Linked DNA regions of Homo sapiens. The protein of the gene in region 1 interacts with the protein of each later gene in a biochemical or structural test. Each region holds a gene or a part of one and is shown in the gene's direction. Other genes may lie near its edges. The genes, in order: CYLD, KLHL21 and CENPV.

Evidence for each region.
Region 2: the proteins of CYLD (region 1) and KLHL21 form a complex in vitro, tested with the Homo sapiens proteins (one study listed by BioGRID).
Region 3: of the proteins of CYLD (region 1) and CENPV, one has a biochemical effect on the other in vitro, tested with the Homo sapiens proteins (one study listed by BioGRID).

Annotation. Positions count from the first base shown.
Region 1 is NC_000016.10:50,745,059-50,748,805, forward strand, and holds part of CYLD (ubiquitin carboxyl-terminal hydrolase CYLD), read left to right. Parts: intron 1-3,747. UniProt on the Homo sapiens protein: Deubiquitinase that specifically cleaves 'Lys-63'- and linear 'Met-1'-linked polyubiquitin chains and is involved in NF-kappa-B activation and TNF-alpha-induced necroptosis.
Region 2 is NC_000001.11:6,600,969-6,604,715, reverse strand, and holds the start of KLHL21 (kelch-like protein 21), read left to right. Parts: upstream 1-1,846; 5' UTR 1,847-1,898; coding exon 1,899-2,919; intron 2,920-3,747. UniProt on the Homo sapiens protein: Substrate-specific adapter of a BCR (BTB-CUL3-RBX1) E3 ubiquitin-protein ligase complex required for efficient chromosome alignment and cytokinesis.
Region 3 is NC_000017.11:16,352,048-16,355,794, reverse strand, and holds the start of CENPV (centromere protein V), read left to right. Parts: upstream 1-2,325; 5' UTR 2,326-2,358; coding exon 2,359-2,768; intron 2,769-3,747. UniProt on the Homo sapiens protein: Required for distribution of pericentromeric heterochromatin in interphase nuclei and for centromere formation and organization, chromosome alignment and cytokinesis.

The DNA of each region.
Region 1 (3,747 bases):
TACCAAGATATTCATAATCACACAGTTATCCAGCCTGAAGTAAGATAGTATTTAGATGAGTCATTTGTGATATACTCACTCAAAGTGATTCAACCTGCAAAATAATAAGAGAATACAAGTGAAAATTTCTCCCTTCACACTGACCCCTCACCCCCACCTGCCCTACGGTGACTTTGAATTTAGCTGTGCTTCTTTTTCCTTCAGTTGTCTTACTGTTCCCTAGGCCTTTACTTAAAGGCAGAAGCTGAGTGAATGTGGATTGATGTTGGGTTTTTTTTTGTGTGTGTTCTCTCTTTCCTCTTTGTTTTTTTTTTTTTTTTTTTTTTTGAGACCAGGTCTTGCTCTGTCACCCAGGCTGGAGTACAGTGGTGTGATCATAGCTCTCTTCAGCCTGGACCTCCTGGGCTCTAGCGATCTTCCCATCCTCCAGAGTAGCTGGGACCCTGAGTAGCTGGGCCCACAGGCAGACACCACCACACCCGGCTAATTTTCTTTTCTTTTTTTTTCTTCCTTTTGGGACAGGCTCTCATTCTGTCACCCAGGCAGGAGTGCGGTAGTGCTATCACAGCTCACTAAAGCCTTGAACTCCAGGGCTTAGGGGATCCTCCCACTTCAGCCTCCAAAGTGCTGGGATTACAGGAGTGAGCCACTGTGCCTAGCCTAGATGATGTAGTTTTCAGTATCTAACTCTGTACTGAAAGCGTAAAAAATACCAAACTAACAAACCAACCTTCTTGATGATAAATAACTCATTTACAATGTGATTTAGATCTTTCCCTTCATATTGTGTTGAGTCAGTTTTTACTGCTTGGGGTACCTAAGACTTTAACTATTTAACTACTATGCACATCCCAGTGAAAGTAGACTGTTGGTGTTATATTCACTTCTACAGTGGGGAGAAATGTATGTTAGCATATTTTTATTGCAATACTGGTATTTTGAGTACATAAAATAAATATATATATATAATGGAGTGTGTATATATGTGAGAGAGTGTGTGACAGGGTCTTGCTTTTTCACCCAGGCTGAAGTGCGGTGGCGTGATCATGGCTTGCTGCAGTCCCTCCCTCCAGGGCTCAAGCCATCCTCCCACCTCAGCCTCACAAGTAGCTGGGACTACAGGCACATGCCATCACACCTGGCTAACTTTTGTACTTTTTGTAGAAATGAGGTTTCACTGTGTTGCACAGGCTGGTCTCAAACTCCTGGGCTCAAGCTGTCCACTCACCTTGGCTTCCCAAAGTGTTGGGATTACAGGCGTGAGTCACTGTGCCTGGCCGAGAATATTAGTGATCATTCAGTTGATTGCCTTGTATATCTCTAGACTCGAGCCGTAAAGTTTCCCATTCAACTTTCTCTATCAGTTGCAGTGAAGAGAATCAATTTTTAATAAGAGAGTTTCAAACTTGTTCTTAATATATTCTTTCTGAAAGAGGAAAGGCTGTATCCTTTATTTTTGGATAATGCTTTTGAAATATTTGATAACTTGTGCTTGACTATTTTAGTTGTCTAACATGACCCATCCTATTGCTAAGTCTAAGCTCATTTCCACTTGTGCTAATGAAAGTTAGGAAAAAAGTTACCACTCCTTGTAGAGTTCACTTTAAAATATGGTACTTGAAAGCTATAGTTTATTACCCTAAAACATTTTTATAAACCTAGCAGTTATATCAATTTTTACTGTGGATTCTCTTCCTTAAATTATTTCAGAAAGCAAGCTTATAATCAAATTTATTTAACATAATGTCCTAATGCACATATAGTAATTTAGTTTTGTCTTAATAATAGATTATTAGCATTAATGATTTTTATTTTAAATTGTGACATGAATAGTTAAGCTACAGGACCAATAGAGTAGGAGCTGTTGGTATAAAGCAATTATTAAGATTCAGGGAAGTTTCTGATTGTAATATTTGAAGACATTGTTCTTAGGAATTTTAAAAAAGAATTTCTTTTCAAAATAGAATTACTTTACCTTTTTCAAAAAAATTTTGGCCCTAAAAATCTAAATACATTTTAAAGAGAACCAAAACAACAGCTCGTTTTTTTGAAAGTTGCTTTTTGACTGTCTTAACCTTCTGCTAGTGACCAGACTCTCTATTCAATAAAGCCTATGTGCCCTTTGCTCCTAAAGACCCTTTCAGAATGTATGCATTCCTCTTTTCACGATTGTTGCTTTGTGTTTTCAAACACACAAACATATTTCACTACCTGGCTTCTCAGAACTGATTCGAAGCGATAAGTTGGAAAGCAACAAGGCCGTAAAAGGAGTCAAATGCATACAGCAGGAAACCACAGAAAATGGCTGATTGCAAGGGAAAACTCTAGACAGTAGATCTGTAGAAAGCATTCGCGACCTCAGGAAGCATAAGATACAGCCTTTTAACAAAATAACAGCCTTGCAGATCAAGAGTTATGCAAAATAATTTACAGTCATAATGATACATCAATGATCAAGAAAAAAATAAGGACATTTTCTTGTGGAAAGTGTTGACATGTTAAAAGCATTTTGGTCAAAAAGAACCAACACTTCAGTTTGGTCCTTTAAAGGAATCCAACCAAATTGAGGGGTTGGATAGCTGTTTGGGCAGCCCTTATAAGGAGTTTTGTTTATATTGTGTCAAGATAGAGGTTTCCACAGGTGTCTTATATAAGTGGCAAATATAAATTGATCCCATTCTTGCTGAAGTAGACAGTGCCCTCAAGTGGAATTAAAACAAACACACCACAAAAAAGAAGAAAAGAGAACCACTTCATGCTACCTCTGCTTTTACCCTCACTGAGTGTTACACAGATATTTCAGTCATGTTGGTTTGAAGGAGGTGCCTAACCTGTATCCTGTCTTGGCTAAACCACATGTCTCATGCTGGCTTGTAGAGGGAGAGACTTTTAGGAACGTTACCATTATGGAATACTTCATTATCTAGCAGTGCTTTCTAAAAGAAGTGTTCCACTGTGTATAGATTTGCCAGGTTGTTTGATCATTAAGTGATTAAATCTAAAATTTGGTTCTTTAGGAGTATTTATTTTTTAATTGCTAGAATAAAATAAATATGATAGTGCTATCAATTGCAGCCATTACCCAGAATAATGGAAATGGATACCTCTATCTCAAGGAAGGATGAAATGAAAGTACTGTCTTTGGAAACCAGATAGCCACATTCTTATGACAGGGATACCTAGGAAGTATTGTTTTCAGCAGAAAATTAATTAAAATAATGAAGTAAAGTCTCAGTTTAAATTAATGAAATTGTGTAGTTTTTTAACCATCAGTTAAAATAGGTTTGAGAATGAGCCTACTTCATTGGAAAGATTATTATTCTTGTAAAAATTTTAAATGAGGACCAGGTGCAGTTGCTCATGCCTGTAATCCTAGAACCTTGGAAGGCCAAGGTGGGAGGATCATTTGAGTCCAGGAGTTTGAAACTGCAGTGAGCTATGATCGCACCAATGTACCCAAGCCTGGGTGACAGAGCGAGACCCTGTCTTAAAAATAAATAAATAAAATAAAAATAAATGAAAATTTGAAAAAGAAATAATAGAAAGAAATTATAATGCAGTTATATCATGATATTCCCTTGCTATGTAGTACAAGTTTTGATGCTACAAAATTGATTTTTAAAATATTTTTAATATAGTCATATTATAATATCTGATATTTGCGATTTGAGAAATCAGATAACTATGATTAATGTGATGAACATTGCCCATCTTCAGAAAAAATATATGAAATGAAGTTGAGTCAGA
Region 2 (3,747 bases), on another chromosome or scaffold:
TTAGGCATATGAATACATATAAATCAATTTGGGTCATACAATGAGTAATCTGATTTTTCGCTTTATAGCTCAAACATCTTTCCATTTCAATAAATACATCATTATTCTTCAAGGCTACATAGTAAGACTGAAATATGATGTTTAAAAATCCCTGTTATTGGGAATACAGAAAAACCGTACTCAATCCTCAACTATGGAAACATTATTGATTTAATCACTGGACTTACGCAAGATGGGTAAGCTGACCCAGGGGACGGGAGTTCTTTTCCCTACAAACATTCCACTTCCTGGCTACTCAGCCTTTCTTGTCACAAAGCCTGTGCAAGGAAGCTATTGGCCCTGCTCCTGGGCCCAGGAATGCTGCCGCTGCCTTGAATAGCTGTGTGAACAGTCCTTCTATGGGCAACAGGCGGCCCGCCTGGGTACCTGAATGTTTTCTGATTTGGGCCTGTGCTGCCCATGCTCACCCTGAAATTCAGACCAGATGCATTCTTATGGCAAAATGACGTGAAACTCTTAAGTAGAAGAGAAAGCCTGCGGTTCTCATTTCAGAGGTGGAATAAAAACAAAATGTCTTCTGGAAACGCTACGCGGCCCTAGACCTCGCTGGAACCAGGAAATGATAGCCAGCTCCCATGCGCGTGGCCTGCTCTGGGACCCACGTGGGCGGGCGCCTTCCTCAGGAATGCGTTCTCAAAGGCCCACCGGTGTAGGGGGGCTGGAAAACAGCACAAACCCAAGTGTTCTCTGCAAAGCAGCAGTCCTGGTGGTGAAATAGGGGTCTTTTCTAAAACTGAGCAAAGCCTACCTTCCACTGAGGAAAAAATGGCCTCCAAGGGAGGGCTCTTTTTCCCCTACAAGTGACATTCAAAGTGGTGCTGTGTCTATCGGAACTAAAATAAGGGCGATTCCTTCTTTCACCATTCCCCACCGCAGTACAAGTGACGGCGGGACTGTGCTTAGTGGCGTCATCTAGTTTCAAGGCGGTCTCCTATCTGACTTTGAGCCCTCGCTCTTTATACCCAGTTACCCTCTCGTGGAGTCCGAGCAGCTGCTTCAGGGAGGCCCGGGAGCCCCTAGGGCGGGCAGCCCCGGAGCCTGCAGCTGCGACGCAGACTCGGAAACTACAACTGCGCGTGAAGCCGACTAAAGTTAACGCCTGTGTGATTGAGTCAGAAGCTCCTTCAGGAACACAGGAGTGGGGCCGACTCCTGGAATCCGGCCCCGGGTCGCTTATAAATGCGCCAAGAAAAAAACGTCACCGAAAAACTTTATACGCGTTCTTGCTTTGGTCCAGAATGGTAAAAAGCCTATCCTTTGAGTGTGTCCCGTGATGGGGTTAACTAGCAACCCTTGAAACTAGTGGAACTCAAAAGCAAAACAAAAAGCCATTGTACCCAGCCGCCCCGGGACCTGGGCCGGCGCCCTTGGGAAGTCTGGCGTGAAAGGAGGGGTGGCTTTGGTTTCAGGGCCGAGCTCGCCTCTCCCGGGTTGGGTTCAGCAGCCGGGCCGGGTGGGTCGTGGGCAACCCCGGGAGGCCCCCGGTCCCGGCGCGCGGCGAGGCCGCCCTCGGACCTGGCACTTGTCACTCGCTGTCCCCGGCCCGGGCGTCAGCGGGGAGACGCAGAAGGGCGGAGGGAGGGAGCCGGCCGCGGACAGCGGTGACTCAGCCTGCGGAGCCGGGGGCGGGCGCCGCGCGGGGGACAGGCGAGCCCGCGCTCGCGGGGGGCGGTGGCGCCCGGCACAGAGGGGTTAAGGGGGCGGTGCAGACGTCTCCCCGCCCATCCCGCCCCTCGAGAGCCGCGGCGCCCCGCCCTATTTATAGCAGCGGTGCCTAGCGCGCCGCGTCTCTCCGCAGGCCCCGGCCGCGGCGTCCTCGACAACCTATCGAAGGCGCCATGGAGCGACCGGCGCCCCTGGCCGTGCTTCCCTTCTCGGACCCCGCGCACGCCCTGAGCCTGCTGCGCGGCCTGAGCCAGCTGCGCGCCGAGCGCAAGTTCCTGGACGTGACCCTGGAGGCGGCGGGCGGGCGCGACTTCCCGGCGCACCGTGCGGTGCTGGCCGCCGCCAGCCCCTACTTCCGCGCCATGTTCGCGGGGCAGCTGCGCGAGAGCCGCGCCGAGCGGGTGCGCCTGCACGGAGTGCCTCCCGACATGCTGCAGCTGCTGCTGGACTTCAGCTACACGGGCCGCGTGGCGGTAAGCGGCGACAACGCTGAGCCGCTGCTGCGCGCCGCCGACCTGCTGCAGTTCCCGGCCGTGAAGGAGGCGTGCGGGGCCTTCCTGCAGCAGCAGCTCGACCTGGCCAACTGCCTGGACATGCAGGACTTCGCTGAGGCCTTCAGCTGCTCGGGACTGGCGAGCGCGGCGCAGCGGTTCATTCTGCGCCACGTGGGCGAGCTGGGCGCCGAGCAGCTGGAGCGGCTGCCACTGGCGCGCCTGCTGCGCTACCTGCGGGACGACGGGCTGTGTGTGCCCAAGGAGGAGGCCGCCTACCAGCTGGCGCTGCGCTGGGTCCGCGCTGACCCGCCGCGCCGCGCCGCGCACTGGCCGCAGCTGCTGGAGGCCGTGCGCCTGCCCTTCGTGCGCCGCTTCTACCTGTTGGCGCACGTCGAGGCCGAGCCGCTGGTGGCGCGCTGCCCACCCTGCCTGCGCCTGCTGCGCGAGGCGCGCGACTTCCAGGCGGCGCGCTACGACCGCCACGACCGCGGGCCCTGTCCCCGAATGCGTCCTCGCCCGTCCACCGGTCTCGCCGAGATCCTCGTGCTCGTGGGCGGCTGCGACCAGGACTGTGACGAGCTGGTCACTGTCGACTGCTACAACCCGCAGACGGGTCAGTGGCGCTACCTGGCCGAGTTCCCAGACCACCTGGGCGGAGGCTACAGCATCGTGGCGCTGGGCAATGACATCTACGTGACGGGTGAGTGGGCCAGGGGCTGGGCAGGCTCTCTGGGGTTGAACCTCGCCGGTACGGGAGCCCAGCTATTCGCGGGGGAAGCGCACAGAGCCTGGAATCCTAGGGGCGCACCTGAGTCCAAGCTGGGGCTCTGGTGACTACATGTCTCTGGGCGATACTTTTAACCTTGAAGAAGGGCCCCTTGTGTGAGCCGGGACAAGTAGCTGCTTGTGGGTCTCTGTGCCCCGTGCGGCCGGGGCTGCCAGGCTGAGCCAACTCCGTGCCCAGGAGGTGCCTCCCCACTTGGTTGGAAGATACTGGGGCATTCACCCCGCACAATGGGTGCTTTCTTTTTCTCCTTAAGGAATCCAGGGACGGGCAGGAGGCCGACGCCCGGTGAGGCATCTGTTCCCCACAAGCCGGGGAATTTCTCCCTCCCTGCTGAGCCACACCGGGCCCCCTGACTCACTCTTTGTCACCCGGTGACAAGGTTCCCTTGGGCTTGCACCTAGGCTCTGTGCTCTGGTCACATGGTGTTTAGGCTGAACTCCCCGGAGCCTGTAAACATGGTCACATGTTAAGAGGTTTTCTTCCAGTTACTTGGCCCAAACCCCAAAACACTGCCGAGTCATGGTAGGCGGGTCCCAGTCCGCCTGAGTTTGGGCTTCTACGGTTTTTATTAAAGATAAATCCCAGTTCAAACACGAGGCTACCTCCTTTGTCGGGGTGAGGAAGGGCGGTCTCTGTGACTGCTATATAAGGAAAGAACCCACCAGGCAGGCGTGTGAGGCGGTTATCAGGCAAGGAGGTGGGGACTGGGATGTCACAGCTGCTGTGCCCAGCCTTGCATGT
Region 3 (3,747 bases), on another chromosome or scaffold:
GCTAAGTCTTACACACACTGAAGTGTTTTTATGTGTTTTACACACCTCCATAACTACCACCCAGATCAAGATAATGTAGAGAACATATCCAGTATCTTTTTTTTTCTTTGAGACGGAGTCTTACTCTGTTGCCCAGGTTGGAGTGCAATGGTGCAACCTCCGGCTCACTACAACCGCCACCTCCTGAATTCAAGCGATTCTCCTGTCTCAGCCTCCCGAGTAGCTGGGATTACAGGTGCCTGCCAGCATGCCCAGCTAGTTTTTGTATTTCTAGTAGAGACAGGGTTTCCCCATGTTGGCCAGGCTGGTTTCAAACTCCTGCCCACCTCCGCCTCCCAAAGTGCTGGGATTACAGGCATGAGCCACTGTGCCTGGCCATATCCAGCATCTTAGAAGAGTCCTTTGTTCTCTTTCCCAGTTAGTTCTCCTCAAGGATAACCACTCCCCACACCCAGCTTTTTTTTTTTTTTTTTTTTTTTGAGACAAGGTCTCACTCTGTCACCCAGAGTAGAATATGGTGGTGTAATCACAGCTCACCGCAGCTTCCACCTCCTGGTCTCAAACTCCTGGGCTCAAGCGATCTGAGCACCTCGGCCTCCCAATAGTGTTGGGATTAGGCATGAGCCACTGCGCCCGGCCTACGTGCCGTTTTAAAATGATGTTCAAGAATAAGCAAAACCAACCTATGGTGGTAAAAGAACAGTGATCGCCTCTGTTTTCTTTTGCCTGAGGGAAACTCTGGTGTGCTGAAAATGTTCTGTATCTGAAGTGGTGGTGGTCACATAAGCTGTACATCTAAGATATTTGCACGTTGCTGTGTGTAAACCATAATTCCAACAACAACAACGACAAAATGGCAAGGTGGGGCTCGGTGGCTCACGCCTGTAATCCCAACACTTGGGGAGAACTAGGCGGGAGGATCGCTTGAGGCCAGGAGTTAGAGACCAGCCTGGGCAACATAGGGAAACCCGGTATCTACAAAACAACAATAGCAACAATTCGCTGGGGCGGGGGGGGGGGGGGGGGGGCGCCGCCTGTTGTTCCAGCTACTCAGCTACTCCAGAGGCCCAGGCGGCAGGATCGCTTGAGGCCAGGAGTTCTTGGCTACACTGAGCCGAGATCCCGCTACTGCACTCCAGTCTGTCAGATCCTGTATGGAAAAAAAAAAAAAAAGACAAAATAGTTAAACTATGCCTTTAATTCAATAAACTATTAAACTAACAATACCATGAAGAAAATCAGAATAAAGAAGAAAGATAGGCTGACGCAGGAGAATCGCTGGAACGGTGAGGCGGAGGTTGCGTGAACCGAGATCGCGCCACTGCACTCCAGCCTGGCGACAGAGTGAGACTCCAAAAAAGAAAAAAAAAAAAAAAAAAAAAAGAAAGATAGGCTGGGCCCGGTGGCTCAGGCCTGTAATCCCAGCGCTTTGGGAGGCCGAGGCGGATGGATCACCTGAGGTCGGGAGTATTCGGCACCAGCCTGACCAACATGGTGAAACCCCGTCTCTACTAAAAATACAAAATTAGCCGGGTGTGGTGGCGAATGCCTGTAATCCCAGCTACTCAGGAGGCTGAGGCAGGAGAATCGCTTGAACCTGGGAGGCGGAGGTTGCGGTGAGGCGAGATCGCGTCACTGCACTCCAGCCTGGGCAACAAGAGCGAAACTCGGTCTGAAAAAAGAAGAAGAAGGAGAAGGAGAAGAAGACTATCTGGGTTCCATCAACGATTCTCGTGCCTTTTGTCTTTAAACTTTGGTGCTGCCTTCATCAAAATCATACTAATGAAATTCGACGCGCGGGTCATTCATTTAATTAAAATGAAACCCCAAATCTGTTGACTATTGGTATCCTCATGACACTGTTCTATAATGTGACAGAAAAGACGAAGGTGAAGAACTATGGTTTCGGCCGCTGTTACACAGGAGGTAGCAGGTGGCAGGCCGTTTACACAAATTAGCTCGTTTTTGGAGACGAAGTTACCCCAGGCTGCCCGCTCGGATGAGCCTGCGAATTCAGGCCCAACCCAGGCCCCTCCAGGTCGGGAAGGTACGAAGAGCCCGCTGGATTCACACAGGGCAGGGGCGCCTTCGCAGGTGCGAGTGGATTCTGGGTATCGCGAGCGTAGGCCCAGGCGCAGCCCCTCTGCCTGCGGGACTGAACAGGCAGGTGCGTCCCAGCGGCCGGGCGGGCCGGGTCTCCCTCCTGCGGGCAGGCGCCGCGCTGCGGGGCGCGGCTGGCGGAGCGGGGCAGCCGGGCGCAGCGCCCCCTGGGCCTGAAGACTGGCGGGCGGCGGGGGCGCGCGCAGGCCGGCGGGGGCGCGCCGCGCTGCGAGGCCTGCGCGCCAGGCTGCGGGAGCCATGCGGCGATCGAGGAGCTCTGCGGCCGCCAAGCTGCGCGGGCAGAAGCGGTCCGGGGCCTCCGCGGCCCCCGCGGCCTCCGCGGCCGCTGCCTTGGCACCCAGCGCCACCCGCACACGGCGCTCCGCTAGCCAGGCCGGGAGCAAGAGCCAGGCGGTGGAGAAGCCGCCGTCGGAGAAGCCGCGGCTGAGGCGCTCGTCGCCGCGGGCCCAGGAGGAGGGCCCGGGGGAGCCGCCGCCGCCTGAGCTGGCGTTGCTCCCGCCACCGCCGCCGCCGCCGCCGACTCCCGCGACCCCGACGTCCTCGGCGTCCAACCTGGACCTGGGCGAGCAGCGGGAGCGCTGGGAGACGTTCCAGAAGCGGCAGAAGCTTACCTCCGAGGGTGCCGCCAAGCTCCTGCTAGACACCTTGTGAGTGCGGCGGGCCGGGGGGCGCGGGAGCCGTTGCCACGCGGACCCCCTCGGCAGGAGTCGGGCTCGCAGCCCGCGTGCAGGCCTTGGGCGCCTTTCAGCTCTGAGCCTTCCACGTTACGGAGCCGACGCGGCTCCCCCGTTAGCACTGGGGTTATTCCTTAATTCTAAGGGCGGCGGGGCGGGGCGGTGCTTCTAGGGCTGTGTGGCCTGGGAATGGAAAGGGGGCTTCGTCCGGAGCTTGAGGGCGCGCGCAGCCGTCTTGGGACACAAAGAGTCTTTCCCGGCCATAAGCATCGTGCTCGGGGACGTTGTCTCTTGCTGGCGCGCAAAGGGTGTGGGGGCCTTTCTTAGTGAAAAGAACATAAATCCCACGGCTTTCTCTTACCCGAATCCCCTTTTTTTTTGTGTTTGCACACGTGTTTTTGAGGGTGGGTGGAAGGGAAAGGTAGAAGCGTTGAAGGAAGCATGAATAGTTTTGAACTCACTGGGAAGCAAAATCCCGTCATTGTTCCAGGCACTGCCAGGGAGGGAGCAGGGGGCGGAGGTTATTGATCCGGGAGAGAAGCGCGCGCGAAGAGATGCTCCGGCCTCGCGCGGCGGCGGGGATACCTACGTAGGGAGGCTTTTATGTGCTCAGCCAGCTAATGCTCCCTGCCGCTCGCCCTCCTGGCTGCTCCGCAGTCTTTTAGATGGCCCGAGGAGCATCTCGAGTGTCCGCGATTTGGGAAAGAGCTTTTAACTGGGCTGTTAAAGGGCTGCCTTCTTTTCTCCAAATGCGATCTGGATTCCTGCCTCGGGGAACAGTTGTGCTACAGAGAGATATTTTAACGCCCTGATATTATATTTCAGTGTCAATTTTACGAATTAAAAAGAACAATCAAAACACTAGGGGGAAAAAACCGACAAGAATAACCTAGCAATTGCATAACCTGAGAATTACTTCTTTTCTTGAACATGTTCCTTTGAGCTTCTTGCG